Linked DNA regions of Homo sapiens: region 1 is linked to region 2. Evidence: fine-mapped expression QTL. A gene starts in region 2. The other region holds a variant in brackets. All regions are shown on one strand. Distances are from middle to middle.

Region 1 (8,998 bases), 30 kb before region 2:
CAAGATGGCTGCTGGCGTTCCAGCTATCACATATGCATCCAAGGCTGAATGCAGGCTGAAGCAGAGAGGACAAAAATGGCCTTCATCAATACTGCTTCTATTCAAGGGGCATTCTTGGAGATCCCTTCCAGCACCTTCTGTTTATATCTAATATCCTAGAATTCAGCCACACAGTCATACCATATATGCCAGGGAGGCTGGAAATGTTGCCCTTTAGCTGGGCACATTGCCTTCTGCAGCAAAACTGGGGTTCTGTTATTGGGGAAGGGAGGAGAATGGACAGTGAGTGGCCAGTGGGCAGTTGTTGGCTATGGTGTTAGAGCAGAATGGTGGAAAAAGGGTCTTTCCCATGGCAAGGAGCTGAAACCAGCATGCTGGCCTCCCTACCTGCTGGAGCCTTTTTTTTTTTTTTTTTTTTTGACAGTCTCAGGTGGAGTGCAGTGGCGCAATTTCAGCTCACTGCATCCTCTGCCTCTCGGGTTCAAGCGATTCTCCTGCCTCAGCCTCCTGAGTAGCTGTCACAGGTGCCCGCCACCACACCCAGCTAATTTTTGTATTTTTTGTAAAGACGGGGGTGGGGGGTGTCTCACCATGTTGGCCAGGCTGATCTCAAACTCCTGACCTCAAATGATCTGTCTGCCCCGGCCTCCGAAAGTGCTGGAATTACAGGCATGAGCCACTGTGCCTGGCCACCCCCTGCAGCCTTGTTGAATGTTTGGGCACCACAGGGTTTTCCACCTAATTTGCTTCTGAACGAGGAACTGATTTCACACCCAAAGAAGAGAGGCTGTGGGTTAACGCACAGGGAGAACTCTGGTCTTTCACTCCACCCTCCCGACAGAGCCAGCAGGTCGCTGGACTTTTGCTAAATATCCTAAAATGCAGCCTTGACTGTATCACGTCCCTGCCCAACCCCCTTCCATGGTTCCAGATTGCCCAGTTTGCTCCAGTTTAAGGACAAATTCTAGGGTTTGGCATGGAAGCTGCAGCAAAGCCTTCCATGGCTTCTTGCTTCTATCTCCTTGTCACACCTCAGCTCATGCCCGACAACCAGGCCTTTGTCTGGGCAGCATCGGCTGTCCAAGACATTGCTTGCCATGTCTTTGCTTAGTGAAATCCACCCATTCTCAGCACACTTCCCGGGCCACCACTAGCCCTTAAGCCACCTTTGCGTGAAAAGGAAAACGGTCCCCTTTCTCCAAGTGGATGTAGCTCCATGCCAGAGTTTGGGGAGTGGCCTGTAGGCTGGATTCCATGCACGCTTGCCCCTTAGCCCACTGCCCTTGCACAGTGAACACCCTTTACTGCTGCACATGTGACAATGCCACGTCCAGGAATCTTTCAGAGCTCCATCAGGGAGTCAGGACCTTCCTTTTCCCTGATGTTTTCTCTGCCTTTGGATTCCATGCCAGCCTGCCCTGGTTTGGGGCTGCCCTTTCCAGCTTTGTGTCTTCTGACCTGCTTCATGCCCTTTCCCTCAGATTGATAATGTCAGTAGCCGCTGGGGGGGCACCGAATTCGAGTCACAGACCATAGCTCTTTCTCCCCACTTTGGGGACCGGCCACCACTCCCTTAGCCCTCGGCATGCCCAGCAGCAGAGTGGAATGTCCCACTGAGCTGGAACAAGGGCCACCTTGACAATGCCTTAGCAGTGACCCAGGCCCAGATACCGGAGTCAGGGGAGCCAGGTGCTCAGAGCGCCTCACACTTGAGTCTCAGAGGCCCCAGGCTAGGCAGGGGAGGTTTCCTCTCCTCTGCTTACTTGGTTCCTGGGAACACTGGAGCCCAATTCTGAGTCCCTTCCCAGAACCCCTCATCGTGCCCTGAACCATGGGGGCCCATAATGCTTGCAGTGGAGGCCTTAGACCCATGACCCAGGAATGCACAGGCCTTCCATTCCATACCTTTATTTAATCTGCATCTTCTCAGCCTCCTCCCTTCCCCGCCACCCCTTAGAGGGCGTGGAAGCCCTCGTTGAAAGGGAAGGAACTCCTCTCTCCTCCCTGGGGGAGGGTCAGTGTCCCCTGGGCCAAGACTCGTTGATGGGAGAAGCAAGGGCCTGCGTGGTGGAGCAAGGACATCATCCAAGAGGCTGTGGCCAAGGCCCAGCCCCTCGGATGCCCTCTAGGCCTGGGCCCCATGGATCATCAGGAAAGTGAAGAGTAGATAAGTCCGGGAGGGCAAGGAACGGGCGTCCCTGCGTGTGTGTGGCTGATGGAGGCAGACATGGACTTTGGGAGGCAGGAGCAGAGGCCAGGGGATGTGGGGACCAGGTGAGGCCCTGAGAAGGAACCCCAGGTTGTAGGGGTAGCTGCATGTGGGGGGAGTGACTGGCCCTGAGCAGCGGGAGAGAGGGCAGGCAAGGAGGAGGGGCCTATCAGGGGAGGATGGGAATGTTGGGTGAGTAGCAGGGCCAAGGCCATGGTGCCACCACAGCCAGCTCTTCAGCCCCAGGGAAGCCAACCTGGCTGGGCATGGCCCCAAGCCTCCAATTTGTGCTTCTGCGTCACTGGGGGGGCTCCCAGCATGGCCTCAGCCCCGGTAGGGAAGTGTCCACAGGCAGCCTCTGCTGCAGGCAACAGCTGGCCGCAGGACTCCTCCTCCATCCCAGCCTTTCTGGAAGCTTCTTCTCCTGCCCTTTGTGAGAGGCCTTCAGGCCAGATCATCGGCCATCTTGGGGGATGAAGCCATGCTGGGGGCGATTCTTAGGCTTCCACTTCCTCCAAAATGACCACAGGTAACTGCATTTTAGTCTGTTTAAGGACCCCCACCCCCACCCTCACCCCTGCCCCTTGTGTGTGGCTGGTCTGTTTTCCCGCCTGTTTTGGACAACAATCACTCGGGCATCTAAGCCCATGGTGGAATGGTGGGGAGGGGGCCACTCTGGGGGCCGTGGGGGGTCTCAGAGAGCACCCTGCCCATCCCCCTGGCAGCCGCTGTCTCCGTGGACAATGAGCACCGGGAAGTAGAGGGCGTCCTCATAGCAGGGCGGGCTCTCCAGGGGTTCCGTGTCCTCTCCACGGCGCCCCAGCGGCCCCCCGCTCAGGCTGCGGAAGACCCCTGGCGTGGCCCGGCCGCCAGCGCCCAGCGAGAGGCGGCTGCGGCTGAAGGGCAGGCGGGGCCCGCTGGGCCGGGCGGGGGGCAGCGAGTTGCTGCTGACAGAGCGGCGGCAGCGCTGGCAGCCTCTGAGGTAGGCGCCCGAGCCCGCGCCCATGACCACGGCCTCCGAGTAGCTGGGCACCAGCTGCCGGTTGGAGCAGATGTGCCACTCGAGCTCAGTGAAGTCCACTGTGGCCACGCGGGACAGCGGGGGCCCGCTGGGCACGGCCCCCGGCGGGGGCGAGCTGGCGCCAAAGAGCTTCTCCACCTGGTAGTGCACGTGAGCCGTGCCATAGGCGGCCACGACGCGCAGGGGCCACGACAGCGTGGCCGCCGACACGAGCCAGAAGACCCAGGCGCGCGCGTACCAGGGCGGGCTGCGGGGGTCGGCGAAGACCATGAGCGACTCGCGGAAGTCTACGTCCTTCAGGTGCATGCCCTCGCGCGCCTCCAGATAGTCGTCCAGGCCCTCGTTGGCGCTGAAGAAGCGCGCCCGCTGCGTGAGGTACGAGGCCTCGGCCTCCGCGCTGCCGAAGCTGAAGCACTTGGTGAAGCGCAGCCGCGTGGCCGCGTGCTCCGCCAGCCCCACCAGCTCCTTGGAGACGTCGCGGACGCCGTGCGCCGAGTAGTCAAACTCGCCGCGGGCCGTGCGGCTGTCAGCGCGCTCATGGTACACCTGCGTGGTGGTGTAGGCGTCGCCGTTGCGGTAGCGCGTGATCTGGCGTGTGCGCCGCACGTAGTGATAGCTGGTGGCCTTCCACCAGACGCACGGCGGCGCCTGCTGCAGCCGGCGGATCAGCGCCAGCACCGTGTGGGCGTCGGTGCGTGGCGCCTGGCAGGACCGCACGTGACAGTGCCAGCACTCAGCCAGGTAGAGGAGGTAGAGGAGGGAGACGAAGGCCAGCGGGATGTACAGGTAGCCATCGGAGCAGGGGCTGGCCGGGTAGGTCGGTGGCGGGCCCCCGGCTCCCCGGGCCAAGGCGGCCTCGGGCCCCAGGACCAGCCGCGGCACTGTGGCCAGGCGACACCAGGCCACCACGGCCCCGCAGGCGTGGATGAGCAGCGTGAGGAGCAGGCACTTCCAGTGCGACTCGCGGCACAGGGAGCTTCCCAGGGACTGTTTCAGGGGCCGCTGCTGCAGGTGGGCAGAGAAAGGGAAGTCTGTGTCAGGTGGGGCCATCAGTGGGGCCTGCCACTTTGCTTAACCCGGCTGAGGAAGGTGATACCGTGAGCCCCATTTTACAGAGGAGGAAACTGAGGCTTAGAGGGATGAGCAGCTTGCTCCAGGCTTCACATTTCCAGCTCACTCACAGTGGCGCTGCATATTCAAACCCAGGACTCGCTGCCCCAAACCCATCCTCCACTGTGCCGTGCTAGCACTCGGCAAACCGCACACAGGAGACAGCAGGCCCACCTCAGCCAGGAGGGATGGATCCTTGCACTGGCTATTGTGGGTTCTGGTCCTGGCTCTGCCCTGATTTGCTGTGTGGACTTGGCTATATCTCTGCCCTCTCTGGGCCTTGATTCTTGGTCCTGTTGGTTTGGGAAGCCAGGGTGGAAGGGGTCTGAGGTGTAAACAGCATGGGCTTTGGAGTTCCACTGCCCAGGAGCCAGTGCTGGCTCCACTACTTACTGTATGACTTGGGCAGGTCCCTCATCCTCTCTGGACCTCAATTTCCTCATCTGTAAACTGG[T/G]TCTATTGTGAGGATTCAACAAGATCATATGTGTGAAGAAGTGAGCACAGGGTCTGGCCATGGGAATAAATATGATCACCATTACCCTGAGACTCCCTCTGGTCCCTTGTTCCATAGGGACTCAGAAGTCTCGGCAGAGGCTTTTGAGTTGATGAGAAAGAGGGAGCCTCAAGAACGGGGGAGGTGCGAGTCTTGGGGTGGGGAGCAGATGGAGGGCCATCCTCCACTCCCCATCTGTGCTGAGCAAGGGGGTGGGACACAGCTACTGGGCAGCAGGGGCCACTCCCTGGCTCAGAGGGCTTGCCACACCCTCCCTGGCAGGGCTGCCAGCCTAGCCACCTCACCCTCAGGTGCCATGGAGAGAGAAGCAGGTAGGGATAAAGTGGGGCGAGGGGAAGGGTAAAAAGGGGAGGAAAAAAGTGGAAACAACAAAAGGGGGGTTAAGGGGCCACCTCTCCTACCCCAGACCTACCAGGCCTCCAGAGGCCCAAGAGGAGAGGAACCACCCCCTAGCCCAGCCCAGATACAGCCTGTCCCCATCACCCAGCATGGGAGCACAGCGCCAGCTGACCTGCAAGGCCTGTCAGGTGCACACACACTTGTCCACGCCCCTCCAACACATGCTCATCACAGACCCACCCACCGTGGAGGGCCACACTGCCTGTCACCCAGGAAACTCCAGACCCTCGCCTGTCCCCAGGGCACAGACTCCCAGAACCGTAGCATGGTACACACACATACACACACACACGCACACACCACATACCCATCCACCACAGGACACACACGTGCACATACACGTTGCACGTGCAGTGAAGCCCAGAGACATACCAGACCTTCACCTGACCACAGTGCACATCTCCCCACCCCCCACTGCAAACTGACCCCCAGGCTCCTCAGACTCCACAGGGAGAGACCTGCCCACAAAGGGACTCACTCACATGCGCACACCTAGACCACTGGGTGACAACCCGAGCCAGGCACCCACTCGCCCCTCACCTGACTACAGGGCGCACACACCCAATTCACACACCCACACAACACACACACAGAAGCAGGCTACATTCACCCAAATGCATGCACAGCCCCACTCACCACCCTATCACCCCACACATCACTCGGGGCCCCAGGTCCTGCAGACCTTCCTGGCTAGGGCTGAGGAGGGGCCGTCGGGGGTCCCAGCCAGCAGAATGGGCCCTCAATCCTCACCTCGAGGACAAGGAGAAGGGGTACCCAGGCGCCTCCCTTCCTCTTCCCCTCCTCCCCTCTAGGCTCTGCGACTGCTGCTGCATTGCAGGCGCTGCCCGGACACCTCGTGAGCGGCTGGGCCGGGCTGGGGACCTGACCCCGCGGCCCTGGGGGTGGGGGCAGCATCCCCCGCTGCGCTGCGGCACTGGGACGCGTGGGGGCCAGGCACTGACGTCACAGGACGGGCGAGGCTGGATGAGGGGACGCCGGGGGCGGAAGTCGCCCCGCATATTGCTGTCCAGCCGCCCCACCCCTACCCCCAACGCGGGCCCCTGGACCCTTGGCAGGGCGCAGGTGACCCCAATGACGTCATTGGCCGTAGGGGCTCTGGGACTTCCCTCCTCAGCCCCTCTCTTGGGGTCGCCTTTTGCACTGGTCCCTCTCACGCCGCCCCAGGCCCGGCTCCGGCCCCCCCAGCGCCGGTACCTCTTCCCGCAGCGGCTCGCCGTCCGGGATGAGCGCGGGCACCTCCCCGCCGTCGCCAGCGCCGTCCTCGGGCATGGTGTCCTGGCTGCTTGGGCGGCCCCAGCCTGGGCACCGGGCATGATAGGGGGGAGCACGGAGGGCTGCGACGCGGCCCCCGGGGGCGTCCGCTCGGCTCAGCGGCCGCGGAGGGAGTGCGCGGAGCTCGAGCCCGAGCGCGGCGGCAGCGGCGGCGGCGGCGTTGGCGGCCCGGGTGCCAGGCGCCCCGCCCTCCGCTGACCCCGCCCCCGCGGCACCGGCGGCGCCGCCGGCAGCGCCTGGCACCGCGGGCGCTCCGCCCGTCCCCGAGAAGCCCCCGCTGGGCGGCTGGACCCCTGGGTTCTCCTCCGGCCGCGCTCGCGCTCGCGACCTTGAGCTGGTCTAACCCTCTGGCGCCTGAGCTTCCCGGGCTGTAAAACCCTCGAGGAAGGAGAATCTCCAAGGTGGGTGGGCGCTCGCGGGGTCCCATCTCTAAGGAGTAGGCCCAGAGTTAAGCCCACCCAGATCCCATCCCTGAAGCCTCACTTGGAGAAGAGGGTAGTTACAGCTGAGAAAAGCGTGACGAGTCTCACTGGCTGGGCAGGGGTGCTGGGCTCAGCTTAGGACAGGCAGGCTGGGGCCAGGACACAAGGGACCCTAGGCTGCGTGACCTTGGGCCAGCATGCTCCACTCTCAACCTCAGTTTTCCCATCTGAAAAATGGGGATAAAAGCTGGACTGAGTGGCTCATGCCTGTAATCCCAGCACTTTGGGAGACCGAGGTGGGAGGATCACTGGAGTCCAGGAATTCCAGCAGCCTTGGAAACATGGCGAAACCCTGCCTATACAAAAAATTAAAAAATGAGCTGGGCATGATGGTGTGGTGTGCACCTGTATTCCCAGCTACTTGGGAGGCTAAGACAGGAGGATCAATTGAGTCTGGGAGTAAGAGGCTGCAGTGAGCTGTGTTTGCACCACTGTTCTCCAGCTGCGTGATAAAGTGAGACCCTGCCTAGAAGGAGAAGAAGAATGAGAAGGAGAAGGAGAAGAAGAAGAAGACAGAAAGAAAGGGAGAAAAAGAAATAAAGAAAGAAAGAAGGAAAAGAAAAGACATAGAAAGGTTTTGGATTCAGTTTACAAGTATCCATTGTGCCCTGCAGTGACATGGGAACTGACTTGCATTAGATGACCCCCTCCCAGGTACACGTGGCCCCAGTGCTACCTCCTAGCCCTCCAGGGCCTCAGATCTTCACATCTGTGTCTGGGTCTGGCTTTGCTCCCAAACTAGACAATATGGGCAGAAAATGAGCTGCAATACTGGTGGGTTAATTCATTTTTGTATGTGCGTGTGTTCAGGCAAAGAGCAACTCAAAGACCATTCAATTAAACATCCTTACCCACTTAAAGATTAGGTAATTGAGATGTGGACACAGGAAAGGACTGGTCCAGGGTTTTATCTATTTATTATGAATTTCTTGGACACAGATGTTTATTGGGTGTCTTCCATATGCAAGTATTGTGCTTGGCACTGGGAAGACAAGGGTGGAAGTGGAGAATGACAACAGGGCCTGTCCTCATGGAACTTACATGCAGGGCAAATTGGGTGCACCCAGAGGGGGCCTAGAACCCAACCTATGACCTCCACCCCTGACCGGGTCAGGTCTCTGTCCCCTTTGTCCCTCTGAGAGGCACGAGATGAACTAACTCTTAAAGATAACTAGGCTTATGGACAAGTGGATATGAGGGGGAAGGGCATCCCAGGTGGAGGGGACCTCTGGGCAATGGCACTGCAATCAGACCACGTGGGCTGAGTTTGGGGAGCAGGAAGGTCATCTGGTGTAACTGGATACCTGGTAGCTAATTAGAGAGGTCGCAGAGAACCTGCTCATGCTCTCTAGAAAGCGGTGGCTGAAGGTCTGTGAGAGGGAGGCCCCTGAAGACTGTCTCCGCGGGGTTGGGAGTGATCAGAACCTGGGTGGAGAGAAAGGAACCCCCGGGACTACAAGTGAGGCTTAGGGGCCTCACTTCAAGAAGACCACAGGCCCGGCGATGACTCAGGAGTTTAGGCTGCAGCTTCAGGACGCAAATCAGCACACCTCTGCCCCCAAATCTGCTGGACTACGGGAGAGTCTATGGGACAGGCCCGGGGCAGGATCCTGCCCCACCTATACCACCCAATCTCTCAGACTTCGGATCCTCTGGGCCCCAGTTTTGCAGTATGCGTGTATGTGTGCGTGCGGCCACGCGCTCGCTAGGAGCGTGTGGTTCGAGACCCCAAATCTTCCCATACGCAGGCCCCCGGGAGTCTACAGGATGGCGGCTGAGGCGGGAGGACATTTTCAGCACCGGACGACGGACAGCACCCGCGCGGAGAAGAGGAGTGGGAGGCGGGTGGAGTCAGCATCCTGGGGCTTGCTTGGCAGCTCTGTCACTGATAGGTCCGGCCTCCCACCACCACCTCCGGGTCTGCCGGGGCTCCGTTCCAAGATTGGGTGAAGTGTAGGTGACGGGGGAGG
Region 2 (9,691 bases):
GCGCCGCACAGTCCTGACCCGGGCCAGACAACCCCGGTAAGCGTACAGCCCTGTATTCGGGATCGAGGCTGCGCTGGACGGCGCGGGCGGGGCTCACTCACTATTCGGGGTTCATGGCGGCGGCGGCGGCCCGCTCGGTCGCTCCCAGTCGACTCTGCTCCGCCTCCCGTTCCAAGATGGTGGCCGCTCCGCCCCAGAGGCCCCGCCCGCGACGCGCAGGCGCAAACGTCTTCTTCTCAGGCCTCGCCGCGCTGATTCCCGGAACTTGTAGTCTAAGACGTTCTCCAACTCAGCCCCGCTGCGCAGGCGTAGTCGGGGAGCCCGCGCCTCCGCGCCCACTCCCATCACTGCTGGCGCATTGCCTTCTGGGGCTTGTAGTTTGCACTCCGGACGCACTCAGGCTTGAGGACAGTGCTGGAAAGCCTGACCGCGACTCGGTGTTTAGAAAGCTCAATTTAGGGCTGGGCTTGGCACGTTTCACATCTGTCTGACGGAGGTAGTCATCCTTGCCCTCCCAATACCCACGTTGTGAACATTAAATGAGAATGTGGGTTCTAGTAAGACTAATAAAAGTACATTTGTCCAGGGTTCTTCGTGTACTGGGCAGTCCTAACTCGCAGCCGCGCGTCATCACCCGCATTTCATAGATGAAAAAACTGAGTCTCGGGAAACTCACTCAAGGTCAAAAACTTTGTGAGGAGCAGAGCTCATAAGAGCCCGCGGTCTCCAGAACCCCACAAGTGAGTGTTTTAGGGAAAGCCTGACTTGTGGGCCCCTCACGCAATTCCGGGGTGGGGCACAATATCTGGGCCCAGCTGCGCGGACAGCGGTTGAGCGAGACACACTGTCCCCCACTCACGCACGACCCTTCCCGGCTCCACCCCAGTCTAGAGACGCTGGGGGCCCCCGACCTCCGTCTCAAAACAAGCCCAGCTCAGATTTAAACCGTCTTTATTTCTACAGCAACATCTGAAAATATGAGAGCAGCCGCCTCACCCGCAACAGGGGGAGCCCCTCCTGCCACCAGGGGACCGTCGCCGCCCCTCGCGAGAAGCTGCAGGCGTGGGGGGAGGCGAGGCAGGATGGCTCGGTGGGCGGTGCCCGGGGCGGGGTCGGCCGTGCCTGGGCGGGGCCGGGTGGGAGGGGCAGTGCATAAGGCCGGGATGCGGGGCAGGGCCCGGCGGTGGGAGGACGGACTAAGGGGAGGTCCCCGTCCTGGGCCACGGGGCGATGGCGCGGGTAGGACGCATCCCTCAGAGGCCAGGAGGAGCGCGAGAAGGTCCCAGGACCCCCTTGGGAGGCGCCGCTCCCGAGAATGTAGAGCCTGGGAGATACCACCGCACGGAATGGGGGTGATTAAGGCCTGGGCGGTACCACTAGAAGAGGGACGAGGGGAGGCCCGGGTAGTACCGTGGACTGAAGGGAGGCGCGCGGCCAATAACTTATTTCTCTATATACAGAAGCAACGGCCGGGTTGAGTCGGGAGGGAGGGCGAGGGTGCCGAAGGGCCGGCGAGTGCTTAGTGTTCTTGGCTCTGGGGTCTGGGGAGGCCAGGCCACTGAGTCTATGGTGGAGACTCCAGCCGGCACCTCCTGCTGGCCCGAACCTAGGGAAGAGGGCCCTGCTGGAAGGAATAAATAAGGGATGGAGCTGGAGTGGGCAGGCCCAGCCTCCAGGGCTCAGGCTGAGATGACAAGGGAGAAGGTTACCCTGAGATTGAACAGAAAAGACAGGGGCTGTGGGAGAGACAGGCGGGACAAGCAGCAGGCCCATGCGCAGGGCTGGGGTGAGGGGGGTGTGCCAGGTGGGCGCTCTGGTGACTGGCTGCCCCTTCAGCATTAGCCCACCAGGGAGCTTCGTCGGGAGAGGTCCATGGAGCTGGAGCTGAGAGTGCGGCTGTCAGAGAGACCTGTGCCTCCAGGCTGTGGGCAGAGGGGGCAGGTGGCTCAGCCCTGTGCTGCTGCCAGTCTGTGCCTCCCTGGCCTGAAGGGGTCTGACCTGGCAGAGGCAGCCGGAATCCCTGAGCTGGGCAGAGGCAATGGCAGTTCTGACCCAAGGCCACACCCTGGTGCCCTGACACTCCCGTCCATCTCCACAGTGACGGTGTTAGCACTGGCCGTTTACACGTCCACCCCCAGGAGAGGCTGGGTTCCCCTCGTGTCTCCCCGTTGTCCAGCCCAAAGTAGGCCTGAGACAGAGCCAGGAACTGTTGCTGGATGAAGAGGCATGCTGGAGGGAAGCTTGGCAGCACGCATGCAGCCCCGGCCGCAGCTGCCCAGTGCCCAGACACCCGCCTGCCCCTACCTGGGTCGGCTCTTCCACGCTCTTGTTGAGGAAGTTGAGGGAACTGGCCCGCTTCATCCTGAGGGAAAAGGACAGCCTGGGATTTGCCCAAGGAGGAACTCACGGGAGATGGGGGCAGGGAGAAGGGTGGGGCTGGGGAGGGAACAGACTGGTGGGTGGTGGAGCCTGAGAGGGATGGGGAGGTTGCCTGGGGTCAGTGGGGCACACTCTGGGTCAGGAGCTCATCCGGGGTTGCTGGGTGGTTCTTGAGGCTCACCTTGGTGGGGGGCTCACCTGGGGTTAGGGGGCTCCTGGGGGGTGCCCCCCTGCAGCTTCTTTACCAGCATCTCACTGCTGCGCCTCAGGGCATCCCGGAGTTTCCCAAAGGAACCGCTGCGCCTCAAGGAGCCACTGCCATCCTGCAGGTGGACAGGCTTGCCTCTAGGCCCCGCTGGCCACCTAGGCTCCCAGCCCGACCCGGCCCAGGCCCCGGACTCACCCCATTCCACTCAGCTGTAGGTCCCACGTCCTCGAGGTCAGACTCAGACCGAGGCCCGGCACCCCCAGCCATGTCTCGGCTGCTGCGGCGGTCTCCCCGCCTGCCACTGCCATCTTTCAGCAGTTCTACCACCTTGGTCTGGCTTGCGGGGTCCAAACCCTGAGGGAGGGGCAGGGGCATCAGGCAGTGAATGGACCACACCCAGGGCCACACAGGTGTCTGCCCACCCCCTCCTGCATGGAGCCCCACCTGCTTGCGGTTACGGCTGGCACAGTCCTCTAGTGTGTGCGCGGCTTCCAGCTTGCCCTGGCGCCGGTATAGGGCCCCCAAGCTGCGCAGGGTGGTGTTGACTGTGGGGCTGTGGATGGGACAGTCTCAAACTCCATGTTCCCCCAGACCCAGGGCCCATCCTGGCACCCAGCCCACAGTGGGCCCTGAGGAAGCATGGACCTCCGGGGTAGCCAGAATCCATTCCTTCCCATGTCAAGCCCTGTGCTGGGCCCACCCAGCCTCTTCTGTCCTGGGGAAATCACCCCAGGGCTGGGGACCTGGCCCCAGGGCCCTCATGGGATGTTGTCACCAGGACCAAAAGCTGGGAGACCCAGAGCCAGAGAATTAGGCTGAGAATTGGGAGACAGAGCCTTCTTGGGACAGGTGACCTGTGAGTTGGGCCTTGCCAGATGAGCAGCAGAGGAGGGGTGTGTTGGGGGTGAGAGTATGGAATGTGGAGCCCGCCCTGCCGTGCCCTGCTCCCCAGCCCAGCCCCGCCCCACTCACCTGTCTACTTTACAGGCCTTGTACCAGCTGCCGTATTCCCCATAGGGGGCGCTGTCCCGGCGCTTATCCTGGAGGAAAGAATGGTCACAAGAAGTGAGAGCAGGCCCCCCTCTGCACATCCCAGCCTCCCCTGACAACCGCCCAGCCTGCCCCACAGAGCTACCTTGCTTTCCTCCCGCTCCTCTGCGTGCATCCAGATGGGCTTGTTGTCCCCTGGGGAGAGAAAGGGGACTGTCACCAGCCTACCATATAGGTCTCACCTGGTTGGGCTGGACACAGGACTGGGGTCAGGGGAGGGGAGACCACGGTTGGGCTTCGTTGAATGCATGAACAAGAGTAAGACCCAAAACACTGCTGACCCTCTTCTGGACAGAGATGAGCAGAACAGACCCTTGCACCTCAGGCCACAGCCCAAGACATGTGCTAGGCCTGAATGATGGGCCAGGCTCCGAGGGACTCAGGAGCAGATGACTGACCATCCGGGGCCAGAGGTGGTTTCCCAGAGTGGGAGACACTGGGGCAGGCCCTCAAGGTGAGCAAGAATCGCCAGTGGAGAAGGGGGATGCAAAGGCGTGTGAGGCCCTAGCAGGCCAAGGGGGCTGCGTGAGTTGGGTGTGTGCTCATGTGTGCAAACGTGAGCACAGGTGGCTGGGCACCATCTGAGGGTGAGGCTGGTGACCAGCCAGGCCAAAGCCTGAGGGCCTGCCCTGCTGAGGGATTTGTCCTGGGTGCTGATGGCAGAGTGGGCCTGGGATGGATGGGCTAGAGGCACCTGGTGACCACGCACTCACCATTGACAGAGCCAAACTCTTTCTCATGAGCGCGGGTGAGGATCTCCTTGTACAAGGTCTCCGCATCCTGGTACTTGCCCTGCTTCAGGTAGCAGGAAGCCTGGAAGCGGGAGACCCAGAGAGTGAGCGGGATGCATGCAGCCAAGCCTTTTTCTCTCCTTCTTCCCCAACCTCATCCCTGCCTCCCTCCTTCCCATCCTCCAGCTCCTCTCAGCCCCAAGGTACCAGGTTGTTCTTGGTCTTGGCCACATTGGGGTCATCGGGCCCGAGGCGTGTAGCATAGATCTCCAGTGCCCGCCGATAGTAATATTCCACCTCCTCAGCTTTGCCCTGGTTCTGGCACAGCAGGGCCAGGTTGCTGAGCTGCTTGGCCACATCTGGGTGAAACTTGCCCAGGACCTGGGATGGGAGAGGGAGCCAGGGGTTGGGCTCAGGGCTGCCCGGGCCCCTGCCTCCCAGACCCCCAGCCTGCCCAGCCCTGCCTGTTCCCACCTTCTCCCGGATCTCCAGTGCCCGCTTGCACAATGGCTCAGCCTCCTTGTACTTGCCCCTCTTGCCATACAGGACTGCCAGGTTGTTTAGTGTCGCAGCCACCTGGAGGTGGGAGAACGGAAGCTTCTTGACTCAGGCCCTGCAGGACTCTGGGACCTGCAGGGGATGGGGCACAGCCCCCACCTCCCACCCAACCCTCACTCACGGCTGGGTGGTCCTTGCCCAGTGTTTTCTCCCGGATGGCCAGAGCATCATTGAGCAGGTGGGCAGCCTCCTTGTACTTGTTCTGATCCCTGGGAGCAGGTAGGAGCATGGTCAGGGCTGTCCTCCAGCTCAAGGCCCTCCCCAATGGTCTGCAATCCCTGTGGTCACTCCTGTACTCACTGAGTGTGTATGACAGAGTGAGACCCAGAGTGTGGGGAGACCTGCTCAGCTCCTGCTCTCCAAGCTCCAAGGGCTGTAGGCAGTTTTCTCACAATTGGCTGGGGTGCGCAGTGCTGGGGTCCCACCGACTGCCTGGTGCCTAGCATTCCTGGGCGCCACATGGCTCTCCTGCTGCCCCTTTAGCGTGTCCTGCTCTCCAGGTCCCAGTGCCTTTGCTCATGCTGGCTTTTTGCCATGGGAACCTTTTCTAGCCCTCTTGTGTTTGGGCAAACTCACTTTCTGGCAAAGCCCCTCCTCCAGCCTTGGTGCCTGGAGAAGCTGTGTGGACTCCCCAGGACCCCTGGAGTCCTCATGTGCAGTCCCTCCCCAGTTCTGGCCAAGCCTCTCTCTTACACTAGACAGTTTTACTTGCATCTGTAGCCCAGCTCCACGCAGGTGGGCCACGAGTCCTGGCCCACAGCAGGCACCAAGGGTTAGTGATCCAGGGCTGGAGCCTTCCAGAAGAATTTGGGCACCCCCAGAGAGTCCTCACCGATAGACCAGTGCCAGGATGTTCAGCATGGTGGCAACGTCAGGGTGGTCGTGGCCTGACGTCTTCTCCAGGTCTTCGAGTGCCTGCTTGCAGAGTGGCACAGCTACCTCGTAGCGGCCCTGTGAGGCGTATTGGATCACCAGGTTGTGCAGGGTGCGGAGCCGGGCCGGGATCTCGTAGCCCCCATGCTGACCAGACACATCCCCTCCTCCTGGGCTAGGGGCTGCAGGGCCAAGGGCAGGAGGTCAGATGTACCATCTGCCCACTGGACTGGGATGGCACATGCCAGCTGTGCCTTTGAGCCACTTGACACATGGCCCTGGGCAAGTCACTAACCACTCTTTCTCAGTTTCCCCATTTATAGAATGGGTCTAGTTACCCCATAGAAAGAGGGGGTAGAGGCCCAGCTCCAGTACTTCAGGCTCTGTGTCCTGGGGCAAGCTGCCTAACCTCTGAGCCTGTGTCCCTGTGTACAGAGTGGAGGCCCCGATGCATAACCAGTACCATCAGCAAAGCAGGCACTGGCCCCATTGTGGCTGTCTGCATGTGCCTCCTTCAGAGGTGATTCGGAGAGGAAGAGAACTCTCCCAAGGGTCAGGGAAGCTAGTGGCAGAGCAGCACTGGAAGCCAGGCTGGTGACTCCACAGCTAATTGTGATGTCTGCTCACCACAGAGCTGGGGGGATGTGAGAAGCAGCAGCACGTACAACTGTTCTTGAAGCTCTAACACACTAGGATGTCATGATCAGAAGTGAGGCAGGAAGGAACATGGCAGCCACTCGGTCCCAAGGACCAAGAGTTCACACAACCTTTCCTTCCCCCACTCCAGAACTGCCCATCCGCACCTGGGCTCTGCTCATCCTCATTGGGGAACAGGTCATCCAGTGTGTCTTTGGGGACGTCCCCCTTCTCCTCCTGGGAAGGAAGACAGGATGAGCATCAGGGAAGGAGGCACAGGGCAGCCGGGGTGTCCATGGGCTGGGGTGGAGCCGAATCTGCTCCATGCTGCCCCTCCCTGCTCCCAGGCCTCCTTGCTGGGCAACAGTGACCATGGTAGGAGCTCACGTTAGGGGAGGCGTCTTCATCCAACTTGCGGATCTGGCTCATGAACAGCAAGTGCTGCTTCTCCTCCTCGAGCTGGGCCACGGCCTGCTCACTGCGCTGCAGCTTCTGCTGTGTCCCCGCCAGCTCCTCACGCAGCCACTGGTTCTCCTGCACCAGACGCCGCACCTGCGCCCGCAGCTTCTGCTTCTCTGATTCTACAGCCCCCAGGTGGCTCGACAATGCCAAGATCACCTGTGCAACCAGCCCAGGTAAGGGTCGGAGGCCTGTCGACCCCCTCGCCTATGACTGTAGCCTGGGCCTAGTTGGGCTCTGGCACCCAGTGAAGGGCCAGGCCTGGCCCTACAGTGAGGAGCTGCAGGTCTTTTCTCTGCTTGTCAAGGGAGAATCTCCTCAAGGCCCCCGACACACCATAATGCAAAGCCCAAACCCAGGAGGCTTGGGAGTCCCCAGTTCCTTCCTTCTAGGATCAGGAGAACCCCAAAAGGGCTAGTTGGGGTGCTGTGCTTTCCCTGAGCTACTAGCCCCTTCCTTCGTCTCTCCCTGGGTTGTACTCAAGCCTCTGCTGCCACAGCCAGTAGGTTACTGCTCCCTGCCTCAGGGCTAGCGCTTGCCCACAGAACTCTGCTAGATGGCTGAAGGACCACCCAAAGACTCCATCCCCACTTCTGCTGAGGGGCCACAGCATCCCCTGCCTTTCTGCAGCTCCCAGGTAGGGAAGGGGCATGTGTCCCAAATGCTCAGTTGGCATGAGGAGCCACAGGGGCAGGAAAAGTATCCAAAGGCCTTGGCCTCAACCCCCACCCCTCTCCCCAGCCTCTGCAACTCCTTTCCTTAGTTTCCAGTCTCTTCCTGCCTTCCTGCCTAGGGTCCAACCTCCCTTCTTGCTCTCTCTTTTTTTTTTTTTTTTTTAATTTAAGACAATGTCTCACTCTGTCACCTGGGCCGAAGGGCTATGGCACCGTCACAGCTCACTGCAGCCTCTACCTTCCAGGCTCAAGTGGTCCTTCCCCCTCAGCCTCCTGAGTAACTGGGACTACGGGTGCACACCACCACAGCTGGCTAATTTAAAAAATTTTTTGGCCAGGCACGGTGGCTCACGCCTGTAATCCTAGCACTTCAGGAGGCTGAGGCGGACAGATCACGAGGTCAGGATTTCAAGACCATCCTGGCCAACATGGTGAAACCCCATCTCTACCAAAAATACAAAAATTAGCTGGGTGTGGTGGCGCGTGCCTGTAGTCCCAGCTACTCAGGAGGCTGAGGCAGGAGAATCACTTGAACCTGAGAGGCAGAGGCTGCAGTGAGCTGAGATCGTGCCACTATACTCCAGCCTGGGCAACAGAGCAAGACTGTCTCAAAAAAAAAAAGAAAAATTATTTTTTGTAGATACAGGGTCTCATGAAGTCCGGGATTTAAGCAGTCTTCCCACCTGGGCCTCCCAAAGTGCTGGAATTACAGGCGTGAGCCACCACACCCGGCCTCCACCCTTTCCCAGTCCTTCCCGGTTCAGGATCATTTCTGCAGTTGTGTCTCCAGCTAGTCACACCTCCCACTTTGCTCCAGCTTCACACATGGCCTTGATGCCCATGCCCTCCGTGCAGATTGTTCCCCCTCTGTGAGAGTGCACGTGCTCCACCAGGTGTGCGGCCCCTGAGTGGTCCTCTCTACCTCTGACGGCCAACTGGCAGGGAGTGAATGTCCTTGCAGAGGGCCAGGCTGTCTGAGACCCTGTACTTTGTTGTTGGTTAGCAAATGCCTAAGTGACAGGTGTTTCCATAACCACTAGCTTTAAAAAAAAAAAAAAATTCCCCCAACAGCCTGGAAGTGTACACAGCAGATGGCATGATCCCTATTTTAAAGACAAGGAAACCAAAATGATACAACTTCCCCAGGGTTCACGTGCCAGGCAGGGGCTCAGCCAAGCTCTGAGGGGAATAAAACAAGTCTAACTCCTTGTACATCCCAATGGCTCCTGGACATCTCCAACTGCATATCATCCTGGCAGCCTCAATTAAAGGAGGCCAAAACAGAGTTCTGATCCACCAAGGCCCTCTCCTCCCTTAATTTGCTTAAATCACAAACTTGGGAGTGATGCTGCCTTCCTCTCTCTCTCCCTTATTCCACCCCCAGGTCTTGCTGGACCTACCTCCAGAACATCCAGAACTGGTCCCTTTTCTCCACCGTCATAGCCACCCCTTAATTCCAAGCACCAGCTCTCATTTGAATTCCAGCAGTGGCTTCCTAACCACTCATTGGAGAGTGATTCCATCCTCGACCCACTGAGGTTTATTCTCCACATCTCAGCCAGAGAGAGTTTTTAGAAACTCAAGTCAGACTGTGTTGCCTGCCTGCTTAAAGCCCTCCAGAGGCTTTCTGATTTCCTGAGAATAAAACCCAAACCAACCAGGCCATGATCTGGTTCTTGGCTTCTCCCCAGGCCTCTTCTGTCCCTGTCTCCCTTCCATGAAGCTCCAGTCACACAGTTCTTCCCTGAGTTCCTCCACCACAAGCTCTTTCCTACCCCAGGACCTTTGCACATGCAACTTCTCCCCTGCCTCCCTTTCCTGGAGGCTGGTTCATTTCTTCCCTCAGGTTTCAGTTTGTCATTTCCTCACAGAAGTCCTGCCTGACCAGTAGACAAGACTCGCTGCTGCGAGCTATCATAAAATCTTGTTCTTTTCTCTGCAGAACTCATCACAATTTGTAACAACCAATTATTTCTGTATGTGTGTTTTTGTCTCTAATAGGGCAGGAATCTTGTCTATTTTGTTGGGCCCTGTATCCACCTAACACCCTGGCTGGCCCTCAATAACTCATCTGTTAACGAGTGAATAGAAGAATTAATTGGTGGGAGGCTATGTTTCCTTAA

Direction of the effects. Positions count from the first base shown, and alleles are read on the strand shown. Sizes are in standard deviations (SD) of each study's normalised expression.
As copies of G replace T in region 1, the expression in thyroid of the gene that starts at base 3,109 in region 2 goes down (small effect, 0.32 SD a copy in GTEx).

Evidence for each region.
Region 1: its variant is fine-mapped to the expression of KLC2-AS1 in thyroid (GTEx, PIP above 0.99). The same link has a PIP of 0.9 or more in esophagus mucosa, lung, skeletal muscle, spleen and tibial nerve.

What each region holds. Positions count from the first base shown.
Region 1 is chr11:66,289,559-66,298,556 of GRCh38, reverse strand. It overlaps TMEM151A (transmembrane protein 151A), which reads right to left and starts at 6,663. Exons shown (of 2, transcript NM_153266.4): 1 at 6,469-6,663; 2 at 1,893-4,235. The coding sequence starts at 6,543. The coding sequence ends at 2,904. The variant T/G (reference allele first, on the strand shown) is at 4,795.
Region 2 is chr11:66,259,104-66,268,794 of GRCh38, reverse strand. It overlaps KLC2-AS1 (KLC2 antisense RNA 1), which reads left to right and starts at 3,109. Exons shown (of 6, transcript NR_186327.1): 1 at 3,109-3,443; 2 at 3,575-3,652; 3 at 3,933-4,091; 4 at 4,915-5,104; 5 at 6,783-7,070; 6 at 8,953-9,228. It overlaps KLC2 (kinesin light chain 2), which reads right to left. Exons shown (of 16, transcript NM_001318734.2): 3 at 6,823-7,053; 4 at 6,603-6,672; 5 at 5,759-5,981; 6 at 5,048-5,135; 7 at 4,843-4,944; 8 at 4,576-4,749; 9 at 4,351-4,450; 10 at 3,723-3,772; 11 at 3,560-3,627; 12 at 3,032-3,140; 13 at 2,783-2,941; 14 at 2,578-2,702; 15 at 2,305-2,362; 16 at 935-1,922. The coding sequence ends at 1,839. It overlaps RAB1B (RAB1B, member RAS oncogene family), which reads right to left and starts at 156. Exons shown (of 6, transcript NM_030981.3): 1 at 102-156. The coding sequence starts at 115. It overlaps KLC2-AS2 (KLC2 antisense RNA 2), which reads left to right and starts at 384. Exons shown (of 3, transcript NR_186342.1): 1 at 384-496; 2 at 587-740; 3 at 964-1,246. RefSeq lists enhancers at 98-427, 548-597, 898-947, 1,704-2,586, 9,526-9,691 and silencers at 1,058-1,377, 1,398-1,447.